Linked DNA regions of Homo sapiens. Changing the gene in region 1 together with any one later gene gives a genetic interaction. Each region holds a gene or a part of one and is shown in the gene's direction. Other genes may lie near its edges.

Evidence for each region. A genetic interaction does not mean that the proteins touch.
Region 2: changes in PRKAR1A (region 1) and PTP4A3 together harm fitness less than expected from each alone (positive genetic interaction), as found in Homo sapiens cells (one study listed by BioGRID).

Annotation. Positions count from the first base shown.
Region 1 is NC_000017.11:68,508,488-68,515,465, forward strand, and holds the start of PRKAR1A (cAMP-dependent protein kinase type I-alpha regulatory subunit), read left to right. Parts: upstream 1-3,942; 5' UTR 3,943-4,061; exon of another isoform or gene 4,062-4,491; intron 4,492-6,499; exon of another isoform or gene 6,500-6,632; intron 6,633-6,906; 5' UTR 6,907-6,912; coding exon 6,913-6,978. UniProt on the Homo sapiens protein: Regulatory subunit of the cAMP-dependent protein kinases involved in cAMP signaling in cells.
Region 2 is NC_000008.11:141,430,021-141,432,998, forward strand, and holds the end of PTP4A3 (protein tyrosine phosphatase type IVA 3), read left to right. Parts: intron 1-906; coding exon 907-1,024; 3' UTR 1,025-2,434; downstream 2,435-2,978. UniProt on the Homo sapiens protein: Protein tyrosine phosphatase which stimulates progression from G1 into S phase during mitosis. Enhances cell proliferation, cell motility and invasive activity, and promotes cancer metastasis.

The DNA of each region.
Region 1 (6,978 bases):
GGACATAAAGATGGCAGCAATAGATACCTGGAACTACTAGAAGGGGGAGTCGGGGAGCAAGGATTTAAAAACTATTGGGTACTATGCTCACTACCTGGGTGATGGGATCACTTGTACCCAAATCCTTAGCATCACACAATATACCCAGGTAACAAACCTGCACCTGTACCCCTGAATCTAAAATAAAAGTTGAATGAATAAGTAAATATGCTATTTTTGATGAAGATATGTTTTAGATTAAGATATTTTTACTTGGAACGCTTTAGTGTTAGATCCAAGTTTGCCACCCTTCTGGTTTCTTGGTTAATATTTTCAATTAATGCTCAAGATAAACACCCCTCCTTAGTTTAAATGAGCATTTGCCAGTGAGAAAAGTAGGAAGACATTTTGGCATTCGGGTGTTTGCTGGAATTAGTTATGTCTGAAACCACAACTTTGGGTCTCCTAGGAAGTATAAGTACTCAGTACCATTGTACACCATAAGTAGGTGGTGATGGACTTTGAAATTGGAAATACGTGGATCTGTGTTTAGCCAATGGAAACTTTAGGTGCAAGAACCACCAAGAAATGGACCACCAAAGTATTCCTTCCTTTCACGTTTTAGCTTTCTTAATTCTATTTCTGCTTATCACTCATGTTTATTTTGCTTTTATGGTTTTTGGTATTGTTTCACAAGCATTGTAACAGCAATTATGCAATTTCTTTTTCGTTTTTTGAGTGGGAAGGTCTTGCTGTGTGGCCAGGGCTGCAGTGCAGTGGTGCGATCATGGCTCACTGCAGCCTTGACCTCCTGGGCTAAAGCAATCCTCCCAGTACATGCGTGGGTCACCACATCTGGCTAATTTTTAAAATTTTTTTGTAGAGACGGCGGTCTCACTGTGTTGCCCAGGCTGGTCTTGAACTCCTGGGCCCAAGGAAGCCTCCAGCCTGGGCCTCCTAGAGTGATGGGATTACAGATGTTAGCCACCAGTTAAACAGGAAAATTTACTTATAATCCCACTACTCTAGAAACATATTTTTAAACTGAGTTTCTCAAGGACACAGTCCAAAGGAAAGGCTAACAGACCTTTGAATCAAGGGCAGAAGGCCTCTGGAGAAGGGAAACCATACAGAAACTACAGTGGAACAAATGTCATTTCTGAAACATAATTTACGAATACCAACAAGTTGGTATTCTCACAGTGGCACAGTGGCACTGAAAGAACATTTGCACCATTTGGAAAGCACTGAGGCTATTTAGTTTTTCAGAACAGCTGTCTCACTGAACTTTCCCCGGGCTCAACTGTCTACTGCCCATTTCCCTTTATGTCTCCTAAAGCCCCAGCATATGAGGATTTGGCACCTAGAACAAGGTTGAGTGTGACTGACACAGGAAATGGCCCGTGGCTGGACTGGCGCCTGCATGCAGCTGAATGGGGACACACAGCCAGGACTCAGCAAGGAAGCAGCTGTCACTCAAAGTGCTCAGCTCAATGTCAGCAGCTTGCTTGTTTCCTTATTCTTAGTGTCTTAACTGCACTTGGAAGGTAACACTAATGGTGGGACATAGTGTCACTCTGACTTAACCTTGTAGTTTGGGTAGCTCTGCAGGAAGAGGGAGAAATGGGAAGTAAATTAACATTCATTTAATATATCCCCCACTGTACTGAACACCATATATATATATGTAGACAGAGAGAGAGAGAGAGAGAGAGAGAGAGAGAGAGAGATCTATCTATTCTGCAATGGAGAGTGATTAAGATCACTGCCTGGGTTTAAGCCATGTTAGCTGTGTGGCCATGGGCAAGTCACTTAACTTCTCCATGTCTCATGTTTTTTTCTGTAACAATAACAATATTACCTATGTTAAGAGTTACTATGAGGATTAAATTAATTATGTGTAAAGCCCTTAGATCAGTGCTTGGAACACAGTAAGTGCTATACGTGTGTTTGCTGTTATACCCTTAGTAGTTAACTTCAACAAAGTCCTGTTCATCCTTTTATGACCGAGGAAACGGACACCCATGGAGATTAAGTCAATTACCGGACATGGCAGAGCCTGAAACCAAACTCAGATTTACCTGACTGCAATATTTTCTTCCCATAACATGACCGGGCCTGCTCAATGCTATCAAATTCCCTCTGCTGCTTGCCAGCGTAGGGTTCAGTTTATCAACCCTTCTTTGTACTGTCAAGAGTGAAATCCTATCTGACTGAGGCTCTTTTATCCCCATTTCTGATCAACCCTGGAGAAGGGCCAATGGTCAACATTTGGGGAGTCAGTGAAAGGAGAAACTTCCCTTTTCCATTCCCCCCTGTAAGCCTGATTGCCCTTTTGATATCGCCTATGTATCCCTATCAGAAGGCAGTGAATAACATAACTAAATAAATCATCTGATGGACAGTACCCTTAGAGCCTGGTGGATTTGGGGGAGCAGTCGGCCTCCGAGGGCAGCGCTGCCCAATAGGAATATAATGGGAGCCATCTGTGTAACTTTAAACTTTTTAATAGCTACACTAAGAATTAAAAAACAAAAGTGAAATTAACTTTAATATTTTACCTAATATATCAAAAATATTATCATTTCAATCTGGAATCAATATAAACACTATTGAGCTACTTTTTTGTATTGTGTTGAGTTCATGATTTACTTTAAACATACAGCCCTTGAAGTATATACAATGTTACTACAACAGCTCCTGGACACTTGCATATGTGTGTATTTTGCTTTTTTGTATTGTGTTGAATCCATTATGAATTTTAAGCACACGGCCCTAGAAATATATACAATGCTACTAAAGCAGCCCCTAGCCAGACACTTGGACATGTTTCCTTGATGGGCCTTCTTTATTGAGTTACAGACTTGATGTGTCTAAAATTGTACCGTCTCCCTTTTCTTCCTCCTTAGACAGATACTCTGATGGAAAAAAAAAATGGCTGAAAGAGTAAAGTCGCTTTTCCTCCGAATTTTCCCCATTAGTGCAGCTTGTCTGGACAGCTGCGATTTCTTGTTGGGTCACAGGGCATTTTTGACAATCTGCACGCTCTGCACTTCTCCCTCTGTGAGGTCAGGAGTGATGGGGGGGCACTTCAGGTTCTAGAAGGACTCAGGCCTCCTCTTGGACCCTGACAAAGTCCTTTCCCGTGCCTGGTTTCCACAGGGACGGTGTTGCCTGCACAGACGACAGCACCCCCGGCGGGGGAGAGCGGCCCCAGCGGAGACTCGGCAGGGCTCAGGTTTCCTGGACCGGATGACTGACCTGAGCCCGGGGCCCGGGCGGCGCTGGCCGGGCACAGGATGCGCGGCCCGGAGAGCGCATCCCGGCCATCCGCCCGCGCTCGGCCCCGCAGCGCAGCTGCTGCAGATCCGCGGGGGCCGCCACCTCCTCCGGGGGCTGGCAGCGACAGGACTCTCCCCGCCCCGGCCCGGGGCCCTCCCTTGCAGGGGCTGCGGGGAGGAGTCGCCCACCTGTCATCTGAGACGCCCCACGTGGGTCGGCCAGGGAGGGGGTGGAAAGGAGGGAGAAAAGGCAGAGGCGTCAAGGGAGGCCGGAGGGAGAGTGGGGTGGACAGAGGAGCGGAGGGACGAGAGGGAAGCGCACGATAGCTGCGCGGAGAGAGAGCGAAGAGCAGGCGGAGGAACAAAGGCGACCCAAGACACCCAGAGAGGGACAGGTAAGGAGGGGCAGGTGAGCAGGAAGGAGGAGAGAACCGGGCTAGGGAGACTGCGGAAAGGAGAAGTGGCGGGCGTGAGGAAACTGCTGTGGATAAGGGACGAGTAAGATGGAAAGAATGGCGGAAGACGAACGACCGCAGAGTGAGGGTCCTTCCAAGAGCGACCAGGGGGGAGGAACTGGGGCTGTTGCGCCCTTAAGGTTGCTAAGGCGACGGTTCTGGCCAGAGCGAGGCGCATTGACGTCAGTAGCCGAACGCTGATTGGCTGCGGCCAGGCCGTTTCCGGTGGAGCTGTCGCCTAGCCGCTATCGCAGAGTGGAGCGGGGCTGGGAGCAAAGCGCTGAGGGAGCTCGGTACGCCGCCGCCTCGCACCCGCAGCCTCGCGCCCGCCGCCGCCCGTCCCCAGGTGAGTGGGGTCGGCCGGGGGCTCAGGCGAGGTGAGCTTCGTCGCTTCGCAGCCGGTTTGCGGGAGCTGGACCGATCCAAGATGGCGTCACGGGGAGCGACCTGCAGGGGGACGGCCGCACCCCCTGCCCCTCCCCGGCCCGGCGGGCGCCTCCCCGCAGGCCTCACGCCCCCGGCTCCGAGTCTGCATCCTCAAGGCCGTCTGGGCGTTGGCTTTGGTGCGGGGCTCCCCAGCCGCCCCGCTCGCGCTCGCTGCCCCCACCCCACGGCTCCTGGGGCCCTGGGCCCTCCGCGGCCCTCCCCGGCCGCCTTCGCCCCCGCGCGCCGCGGCCTCTTCGCTCACCCTCCCCCATTTCCTGAAGGACAACGGCTCTATTTTACTGGGGTCCGCCATCGTCTCGTCCGCCGGTCCTGGCTCTTCTTGTAAGCCGGTAGTTTTCCTCTCCACTTTTGACGACTCGTCATTGCTAGCAGTAGCCTTTCCTCTTCATAGCGGAGTGATCTTTCCCCCAACACGACGGTCTTAGTCGGGCTCCTGAATTTCCTCTTGTCCCCTTTCACCTCTCTCCCTTTCCCAATTTTGCCCCCCTGAGGCCTCCTCGCCACCACTGTGGCCTTCCGACTGGCGTAGCTTGAAGTCTCGGCTTCCCTTCATTTTGTGGTCATGACCGTGGCCTACGTGAAGTGAAGGGCATTTTCCTGCCCTTCTTCTAGAAAATACACGGTACCTATTAACCTCTTCAGCTCAGAGCCTGTGGTGACGACCGTCCTACTCCTTGAGAGATTCCCAAGAGATCCGTCTTTTTAGCAGAGCGAGGAAAGCAAACACTTACTCAAGATGACCCTAGGGGAGCCGTAACTTGGCTGGTCTAAGGGGGTGCGGTCTGAATCAGGAACAGTTTCTCAAAGTGTTTTTATTTATTTCCCAGAATGTAATCCTTTCGAAACAATTTTGTCACAACTGAATTTTCAAAAGAATGAATCTGAGTGTTTTGTTTTACATAGAGACAATGCAGCGAAAGTTTTAAAGCAGTTAAATAATTGTGTGTGGGGAGGGAAGGCTAGGTTGTTGGGCTTTACAAATAAGTACACATAGAGAATCCGGGTAACTCGATTAAAAATATTAAGACTGTGAAGTCTGGTTATTCAGGGATTTACATGGTGACTGCATTAATTTTGGTACATTTCTGTTCGTATACTGTCCTATTACCGGTGGCTATCTTTTTGGTTTTCGTAATACATTAGTTGTTTCAAACAAAAACACAGTTTCACTCCTTAGGCCCAGTTCTCTCATCTCTACCAGCCAAAGACCTGATCTTAGAATGATTGATCATTTGAATGTTCTTAAAATATGACAATGCTTTGAAGCATGAAAGATCTGATTTATGATTGTTCTTGGTGGCCTTTAAGTATTATTTGAAATGCAGACAATTCTACTGAAGTGGATCTTCAGTTCATATGATTGCCTGACCTGGAGAAGTGGCTTGTATAAATCTATCCTAAAGTAAATGCGCGTTTTTGTTTTTGTTTTGCCTGTTTAAAGTAGCAGCATGATTATTTTTCCATGGCTTCTAATTTATGTGCTTGTCTTGGAGCCACGAACTTTCTAATGGTCTGTTAATTAGTCTACTTGTTGTTGACCTTTATGGTGAAAGTTGTCAAAACAAAATGAGTAACAGTGTAGCACTTTAGAATAGCTCTTTACTCTGTTAATTCTTTCTATAAGTTCTTTTAAATTTACAGTTTCATCTCAATAGTTTACAATGCATTATAATTGGAAAAGTCTGATTAGTATTGAATTCAGTTGCTGAGTGGAGGGGACCACACTCTTGTCTTCTACTCTTAAGTGCTTAGTAATTAGGAGTTGGAAGGAAAACAGTATATGACCCTGTTGTTAAATTAGTAAACTTTTAATTCTAGGGTAAGGTTAGCTGCTCATCATTATCTCTGTTTGCTTTACTTTACATAAAGGTACCATAATTCGAATCCTCTAAAATCCATTAAATGCAATTTATCCATTAAATGTAATCCATTAAATGCAATTTATCTATTGAATCTTCATGCAAGTTTGAAACTTAAGTGTTTTAACATTCTCCTGTCAAGATGAAGAAAATATTTTGACAATTTTCTGTCCAAATGTTTTACAGTTTATGTGGTAAGAATTCTCCCCTCCCCCAACTAAGGATTTTCCTTCTTTTACCACTAGTGTATTATCATTTAGGGGTGGAATCTGGCAAACGAGTCTGGAATAAAGGTTGCTTTTAAAACTCATCTAATTTTCTTGTGTGTTTTTAAAAATTTTGATTATGCTAGTAGTTGGCTAATCAGATCCTCACTCCAGTGGTTTGCTCTGTGACGTTAGGATACTCCCATGGGATAGAAGTTACGTATAGGGAATGTCAGATATTCTTCATTGTGCTGACTTGCTTTCGCTTACAGTTGACTTTTGTGCCCTGGTAATTCTGTATCCTGTTTACCGTTTACCTACTTCCCACGTCATCATGATTTCTTTTGAGGGAGAACTGAATGAAATTCCCTTAAGGGCCTGACTTCAGCACCCGTCTCTGCAGAGGTTAGTGGCTCATACTTCCTCCCAGGAGCTGAGGTTATCGACTCTCACTGTTGCCTACAGAGCACAGATCCTGAACTAAATGAAACATTTACTTGGAATAATGCTAATTCTGTACATATTTTATTCCCTAGTCCCCACTTCCCTGTTTAAAAACAAAATCTACTTAGAAAAAAATCCCTGTGAATCAGTTGTCTAATGAATTTAGCAAGTTAAATGCCAGATTGACATTTTGCTTTATAGTTTATACAAGCATGTGTGTGTTTTTTTCTCGCAGAGAACCATGGAGTCTGGCAGTACCGCCGCCAGTGAGGAGGCACGCAGCCTTCGAGAATGTGAGCTCTACGTC
Region 2 (2,978 bases), on another chromosome or scaffold:
TGGGTCCCCGCTGTAAGGACCAGGTGGCGGGGACAGGGTGAGCGCACAGTCCGGGTCCCCGCTGTAAGGACCAGGTGGCGGGGACAGGGTGAGCGTACAGCCCAGGTTTCCGCTGTAAGGACCAGGTGGCGGGGACAGGGTGAGCACACAGTCCGGGTCCCCGCTGTAAGGACCAGGTGGCGGGGACAGGGTGAGCGCATAGCCCAGGTCCCCGCTGTAAGGACCAGGTGGTGGGGATGGTGGGGACAGGGTGAGCACACAGTCCGGGTCCCCGCTGTAAGGACCCGGTGGCGGGGACAGGGTGAGCACACAGTCCAGGTCCCCGCTGTAAGGACCCGGTGGCGGGGACAGGGTAAGCGCACAGCCCACGTCCCCGCTGTAAGGACCAGGTGGCGGGGACAGGGTGAGCGCATAGCCCAGGTCCCCGCTGTAAGGACCAGGTGGTGGGGATGGTGGGGACAGGGTGAGCATGCAGCCCAGGTCCCTGTTGTAAGGGAAGGTCGCGCAGCTGGGCTGGAATTCTGGGCTCAGCCCCTCCCTTACTCACAGGCCCCCCTTCCTGGATGGTGGAGGTGCCCAGGCACCACCCTTGTTGTCTGCTCATGGCCTTGGGGTGGGTCCTACCGAGCTAGGGAAGCCTGGGGGCCGTAGGGAGCCCAGAGTCAGCCTGGAGGAGGTGGCGCTTTGGTGAGTTTGGAAGGCAAGCAGGGGTGAGCTGCAGGGGGCCAGGAAAGGGTGACTGTGACTCTGGGAGCAGCCGTGCCAAGGCCCTGGGACAGGAGGGGCTTGGCCAGCCTCAAGGCCTTACTCCAGCCCACTGCACTCTCAGATTCCAGCTCCCTGGGGCAGGTGAGATGGCCGAGCCAGGTCCTTGGATGATCTCTGTTCCTGTTCCCCTCTTCCCAGGAAGCGCCGCGGAGCCATCAACAGCAAGCAGCTCACCTACCTGGAGAAATACCGGCCCAAACAGAGGCTGCGGTTCAAAGACCCACACACGCACAAGACCCGGTGCTGCGTTATGTAGCTCAGGACCTTGGCTGGGCCTGGTCGTCATGTAGGTCAGGACCTTGGCTGGACCTGGAGGCCCTGCCCAGCCCTGCTCTGCCCAGCCCAGCAGGGGCTCCAGGCCTTGGCTGGCCCCACATCGCCTTTTCCTCCCCGACACCTCCGTGCACTTGTGTCCGAGGAGCGAGGAGCCCCTCGGGCCCTGGGTGGCCTCTGGGCCCTTTCTCCTGTCTCCGCCACTCCCTCTGGCGGCGCTGGCCGTGGCTCTGTCTCTCTGAGGTGGGTCGGGCGCCCTCTGCCCGCCCCCTCCCACACCAGCCAGGCTGGTCTCCTCTAGCCTGTTTGTTGTGGGGTGGGGGTATATTTTGTAACCACTGGGCCCCCAGCCCCTCTTTTGCGACCCCTTGTCCTGACCTGTTCTCGGCACCTTAAATTATTAGACCCCGGGGCAGTCAGGTGCTCCGGACACCCGAAGGCAATAAAACAGGAGCCGTGGCCGTGTGTGTGGAGTGGGCTACAGCGTCAGGCGGGGCGGGCTGGTGGCCTGGGGGCCCCAGAGGCTGCTGTCTGGATCCTGGGCTGGTGCCCAGGATGGGGCTCCCGCGTGCTCTTGCGCTGCCCTCTGGTGGCCGCTCTGGGTCCTTGCACCCCGACCCAGGGGCCAGCCTGCCCTGTCCTGTCCTGATACCGAGGTGGGAGCCCTGCCTTGGCCAGGGTGGCCGTGTTGACGGTTCTTGGGACTGTGACATTGGAAGGCGAGGCAGGTCACCAGCACTGTCCTCTGCAGGATGGGCTGGGATTCATTTGGCAGCTTCTCAGGGCCTGTGTCCGGCTGGTTGGTCCCTGTGCTGCCCAAACCAGGTGTCCACATTTCCGGCTCCGAGGCGCAGAGAAGGGGGCAGGTGGTGGCTTGGGTGGAGGAAGTCACCATCCATCAGCCCAGGGAGGGAGGGTGCCACCTGGGCACCTGGGGCTGGATGTGAGAGGCCTGGACCAGGGCCCGCCGGAGGGCGTGGACCAGATGCTCATGTGTTCCTGGGTGCAGTGTCTGTGTTGGGGGCTGGCCCCACCCTGGGCCGGGGTGCATGGAGGGCATGGCCCCAGCGGGGAGGAAGGTGGGCCTAGGGCTGGCTCCAGGGTGTGGAGAGCCTGGGAGTGGTCTCCGTCCTGGGGCCCCAGGAGGTTCCCGCAAGGAGCGACTGGGGCAGGTGCTGGAGGAGGTCAGTGGACAAGATGGGGAGATGTGGAAACCCCAAAAGCCCCTTCTCAGGCAGCCCTGCCCCCAAGACCGACAGATGGCTAAGGGGGCCGCAGACCTGGCTCCCCCAGCTCCTGTGTGGAGAAAGGGCAACAGCTGTCCCGGATGGTTATTCTCTCCTTTCCTCAAACACATTTGGAACTCAAGTAAATCCAATGCATGTTGGGTGAAGTTTGCTGTATTTTTTCAATCCACCAGCCAAGTTTTGGGGTCACCTCTGCTGGCCCTGTGTAGCCATGTCCCTGCCCCAAGAGGCTCACAGTCTAGCAGGGTTGGGGGGAAGACAGGCTGGTAAGCCTCCCAGTTACAGCTAGGGGTGCTCCACCTCGGGGGGTGGCGGGGACAGGGGGCATGGAGGTGGGGCCTTGGGGTGCTGCACCTTGGGGGGACTGAGGGACAGGGTGCATGGAGGCAGGGCCTCAGGGTGCTCCACCTTGCCGGGGGGACGGGGGAATGGGGGGCATGGAGGCGGGGCCTTGGCGTGCTCCACCTTGGGGGGCAGGGGAAATGGGGGCATGGAGGTGGGGCCTTGGTGTGCTCTACCTCGTGGGGCAGGAGAAATGGGGGCATGGAGGTGGGGCCTTGGTGTGCTCCACCTTGTTAGGGGGCAGGGGGACAGGGGCATGGAGGCGGGGCCTGGGGGGGGCACAGTGCAGAGTACCACGTCGGGAGGTGGGGGAGATGCCCCAGGTGGAAGGACTGCCTGAGCTGAGTG